2 separate regions of the Homo sapiens genome follow, and region 1 is linked to region 2. The links come from fine-mapping of genetic effects on gene expression. Tissue or cell type: subcutaneous fat. Region 2 holds a variant in brackets; the other region holds the start of a gene. All regions are shown on one strand. Distances are from middle to middle.

Region 1 (2,769 bases), 5.8 kb after region 2:
TAGGATGACAATTGTAACAAAAACAGAAAATAACAAGTGTAGGTGAGGATGTGGAGAAATTGGAACCCTTTACATTGCTGATGGGAACGTAACATGGTGTAGCTGCTTTGAGAAACAGGTTGGCAGGTTCAGGAAAGGTTAAATATAGAGTTACTGTTGGACCTAGCAATTTCACTCATAGGTATATACTCAAGAGAATTAAAAACGTATGCTCACTCAAAAAACTTGTACATGAATGTACTTAGCAGCATTATTTATAATAGCCAAAAAGTGGAAACAATACATATCTGATGAATGAATAAATAAAAGGTGGCACAGGTATTCTATACAATGGAATATTTTCAGCAATAGGAAGGAAGAATTACTGATACAAGCTACAACACAGATGAACTTTGAAAATATTTTGCAAAGTGAAAGGAGCCAGTCACAAAAGTGCACATATTGTATAATTTCATTATATGAAATATCTAGAATAGGCAAATCTGTAGAGACAGAAAGTAGGCTAGTAGTTGCCAGGGGCTAGAGGGAAGGGTAGTGTTGAAGGAAAAGAGGGAGTGACTGATAATGGGTATGGTGTTTTTTATGTGGGTGATAAAAATGTTCTAAAATGGATTGTGATGATGGTTGCACAGCTCTGAATATTCTAAAAGCCATTGAATTGTACAATTAAAATAGGTGAAATACATGTTAAATAAGTGAATAGGTAAATTATATCTCAATAAAGGTATTTTAATAAGAGTCAGAGTGCAAAGGTAATGTCATGGACCAACTCTAAAATTAACAATTCAAACTCTTCAGTAGCAAACATTCTAAAATCTCTAGAAAAGTATCCCATACTCACATCTCATACTCACATGTGTCCACTGAGACTCGTGGGTAGTTCTTGAGATGGGAACCACTTCTGAGTCATTTTTTTTTTCAGGTTTTAGGATGAGCAACTTTGGAACGGAGGAGGCCTTTAGAAGAAAGAAGGAAGTTTTAGATCATGCCTGCAATTCAGCCTTGCAGAGTTGTTTGCCTGTTTGAATTTTCTCTTATCTCTATGGAACATTGACTACTTCCTCAGAAGCTTATACACTGTTAGAGTACTGGGTAAAATTTCATTTGAAACTACGGGAACTCCTTTGCTGACCTATTGTGGCTGTTCCTAATGTTTCTTGGCTTCATGCTGCTTAGGACCCCATGGGAAATCTTGGCAGAACACCCTGTTATACATCTATACTGAGTGCCTCTCACAGCTTCCCTTCACATCAGATTTTTCTGTTTGTCACCCGCTTTTGCCCCTTTTCCTTCTTGTCTTAAAGAGAGACATCCTTCACTCCTGTCTCTGAGGCTACCTGTCTCCTGTGTTCTTGATCCCACGTTGTCCCTTGGGACACTGCTTCATCATTTCTGTGTACCTCTCTGGCCTCTTTTGACCCTTTCCCTCATGGGCTTTTTTTCTTGGCTTGACAGTTGCTCAAATTTCCCATCATTTTTTAAGAAAGTAGTAACAAATGTACAAAAAGTCCCAAGCATCAAAACTTTCCTTAGATGTTTATGTCTTTCTCAATAGACTACAATCTTTTTATTTTCTCACAGTCAACTTTTTTTTGAAAAGTCTGTGTATTTTCCTATTTCCATTTATGTAAACTTTGAATGAAGAGACCAGAGTTACAAAGCAAAGAGCCTTGTGCTAAAATTAAGTCTAGAACATATCATACTTGGAAGCATTCTGCATGTGAAGGAGAAGTGGGGTGGCCACAAGGAGGAGAAGGCATTTTCTAAATTGTTTTTCCACGTTGTGGTACTTGAAGCCCAACGACTGTAATTAGACTCGTATTCTGGCTACAGGGCTGGATGCAGTGAGAGTGTTATTTGGTGTCCCACTTTGTTTGTTTATATTTTAGGCATTGGAGAATGGACCAGTTTCTTGGGGGAGAAAGTACCATTCTTGAGATTAAGAGATGGAAGTTCTCCCTGTACAGAAAATGCCCTGAGAGAGTCATCAAGATGTATTTGGTTAAGTGTGTTCATTTCACTTTGAATGTTAAGGTTTCTGGCATGAAGCCAGATTTCAGAATCTCAGTGATCTTGAGTGTTTAGTCTAGTCTGAGACTGATGAGTGTTCTACCAGGAAGTGAGAAGCATCAGGTTGAGAATATCATTGGGATAAGGTGAGCAGGGAATCCATTAAGGGACTAAGAGCCCTTTACTTTGATATTGAGAGGGGACACTGCCACACATGATACAAACAGCACTGATCTTGCTCAGCATCTGCAAATAAGGATCGCAGACACAACTTTTCAAATAGTCACTTCAGCCTTACCCTTCTGCTAAAGTAATTTATGTCAAGTAGGGAATAGGCTTTTCAATGTCATCCAAACCCCCTGCTTAGGGAAGGGGCATTCGTTTGTAAACACACTACAGAGCTATTGAAGAATACAAAACTTGGTGACCTTATCTGTAAAGCTGGTGTGGTACCCTTCTCAAACACCAGAGCACCGTTTAGTGAGAAAATCAGCTAGTCGATTGCCCAAACGTTTTCCATTTTAGCATCAGAGGAACCAAAGTCCAGGAAGGTGAAAATATGTTGGGCAAAGGTCGTGGCAATTTAGTTTTTTGATTGAGTCTAGATCTCCCTGGATAGACCTGGGTCGTGTCAAAACAGTTTCTGGTAAACAGTTTTATAACCTGCCTCTGTGATCCAGAAGAGCCTGGACATGTGAGTAGAAAGCCTGTACAGTGGATTTAATCCTGGACTTTTTCCTTTGGATACCAGAATTTATA
Region 2 (2,769 bases):
CGAACTCCTGACCTCAGGTGATCTACTTGCCTCGGCCTCCCAAAGTGCAGGGATTACAGGCATGAGCCACGGTGCCTGGCCTCATATTTTACTTTCAAGGCGTAGTGTATAGTGCCCCGTGCTAACTAACGTATAGTAAGTACTGAGTAAATATTTGAGGAGAGGATGAGTGAATGAAAGTGCTATGTATTTATCTCTTCCAGTTCTTTTCTTGGTGGCACTGTTAGCTTATGTGGCTCCTTGGGTAAGACATTTGCCTGCCTTGTGCCAGAGCCAGCCGTGAGCTAGCACAGGGGCGAACTTCTCTTAGGTTCTGAGGTTGAAGACTTTGGACAGGTTTTGAGCTTAGATGCATATTGAATGTGTGTGTCTCCATTTTTCTTTCTAGGTCTGATGTGGCTGTGTTTCAGCCTGTGCTTATACAGTATTCAATTCACTGAAAAATAATGTGGTTGTGTAAACACTCAGAAGGAAGTGTGGTGTGACCGGTGATCACAGCTTCTGCCAGAATATCTAGAACAGGATGCATTCTGCGATGAAAGAGATGACTACAATAGCTGTAGCTATTTATTTTATAAAAAAAAATTCTTAGCCCTAGTTCATGGCCTACTTCTTCCAAGCAGTACAGGTCAAGCATCCCTAATCTGAAAAGCTCCAAAATGTGAAACTTTTTGAGCACCAACATCATGCCACAAGTGAAAAATGCCACACTCGGGTACTTAACACAAAGTTTGCTTCAGGTGCAAAATTATTTAAAATATTGTATAAAATTACCTTCAAGCTATGTGTAAAGGGGTGTCTGTGAAACATAAATAAACTTTATGTTTAGACTTGGGTTTCATCCCCAAAATATCTCAGTGTGCATGTACAAATATTCCAAAATTAAAAAAAAAATTCAAAACACTTCTGGTCCCAAGCATTTCAGATAAAGTATATTCAATCTGTATTAAATGTAACAAAATTTCAGTAACATGACAGAATCTGAGCAATGACTTGGAGGCTTATGTCACTGATTTTGCCTTACTGTGAGAATATTTGGGGAGCTGAGCCCAGGAAATGTACTTTTCCTTTTGTTCTTTTTTTTTTTTTTTTGAGATGGAGTCTCACTCTGTTGCTCAGGCTGGAGTGCAATGGTGCGATCTCAGCTCACTGCAACCTCTCCTGGGTTCAAGCGATTCTCCTGCCTCCAAGCAATTCTCCTGCCTCAGCCTCCCGAATAGTTGGGATTGCAGGCGCACACCACCGTGCCTGGCTAATTTTTGTATCTTTAGTACTAGAGATGGGATTTCACCATGTTGGCCAAGCTGGTCTCGAACTCCTGACCTCAAGTGATCCACCCGGCTTGGCCTCCCAACTCTAGCTGCAGAGTTACTTAACTCTTGGCTCTTTCACAGTATAAAGGGATTTGGAGAATTAATCTGATATTCCCAGGTTGAATTTTTTTTATTTGTTCATAAAATTTAAGCAAAAAGTATTTTTTAAAATCTTCCAGCAATTCAGGGCCTTATGTTCTGGAGAGCCGAGCATTCTAAAGAACGTAGCATCATTTCCTAGAATTTTGCATCGGTACCCTGAGCTCCTTCATGTTCTTTAACTTTCGTTCCCCAGCACATGAAACACCATGGCAGCAACCCTTATTGCTTGTGGCTACTTCTACGTCCCTCCTTTTTTTCACAGGACATTCC[G/A]TTCTTCTCACCAGCCCTAACCTGTTTGCCACTTGGCAAGCACGGGGAACAGGACTCTCCACAGTCTTACCCCGGGGACTAGTTTCAGCTTTTCAGAGAGCAAAGCTTCTGGTCCAACAGTATTTGGAAATTGAGACAATTGAGGAGAAGTAGTAATATGTTCAACTGCAGAGAATGTAGCCTTTGGCATACAAGGAGGAAGCTGTCTTGGCATCTGTCATTAGAGCCACTGGGTATTTTGGAAAAAGTCCATTTCATTCTTCCTCTTTTTGGATCCTGAAACAAGAAGCTATAGTGCCATCAGGAATATAGAGATTGGGAAGCATGGGAATGATTCAAGTAAACTTCTGAAGAAAGCGTACACCTCCAGGGTAGCTAAACAAGCAGAATGCTTGTTGGGGAAGCAAAATCATCTGAAAACAACCTGAATTTGGAGGTAATAGAAAAAAAAAGTTTTTTAAAAAATTTTATTTAAAATGGAAAAATTTAATGGTAGGATGGGAAAGTAGTACTTCTAGCTTGGTTTTGGATTCAGACCTGGATGGGAATACTAACTGTTAGAACTTGAGAAAACAATGTTAGCATCTAAACCTTAGTTTAGATGAAATGTGAAATGAGAGAATAATAGTTCATTTGTGCCCTTTTGAAAGATGTTTAAATTGTGGTAAAACACAACAACATAGAATTATCGTCTTAATCATTATAGTATAATTCAGTGGCATTAAGTACATCCACATTGGTATGCATCTGTCCCCAGAACTCTTTTTTCATTTTATAAAACTGAAAATCCACACTCATTAAAGAGTAACTCCCCAGTTTTTTCCCCCTCCTCCAGCCCCTAGTAGCCATCACTTTACTTTCTGTCTGTATGAATTTGACTACTCCAGGTACCTTGTTTAAGTGGAATCATACAGTATTTGTCATTTTATGACTGGCTTATTTTACTTAGCATAGTGTCTCCAAGGTTCATCCATGTTGTAGCATGTGTCAGAATTCCCTTTCTTCTTAAGGCTGAATAATCTTCCATCATCTGCATGTTGTCTTTATATACCATATTTTGTGTATCTATTTATCTGTCAGTGGA

What was found. PIP is the estimated chance that this variant, and not a neighbour inherited with it, causes the effect.
Region 1: MAP2K6-AS1 starts here. The variant in region 2 is fine-mapped to the expression of MAP2K6-AS1 in subcutaneous fat (GTEx, PIP 0.95). The same link has a PIP of 0.9 or more in skeletal muscle.

The regions. Positions count from the first base shown.
Region 1 is chr17:69,484,394-69,487,162 of GRCh38, forward strand. It overlaps MAP2K6-AS1 (MAP2K6 antisense RNA 1), which reads right to left and starts at 1,139. Exons shown (of 2, transcript NR_145982.1): 1 at 855-1,139. The region is part of intron 1 of MAP2K6 (mitogen-activated protein kinase kinase 6); the gene reads left to right.
Region 2 is chr17:69,478,644-69,481,412 of GRCh38, forward strand. All of the region lies in intron 1 of MAP2K6 (mitogen-activated protein kinase kinase 6), which reads left to right. All of the region lies in intron 1 of MAP2K6-AS1 (MAP2K6 antisense RNA 1), which reads right to left. Among named protein-coding and RNA genes, the nearest start is that of MAP2K6-AS1, 5.5 kb to the right of the region's middle. The variant G/A (reference allele first, on the strand shown) is at 1,686.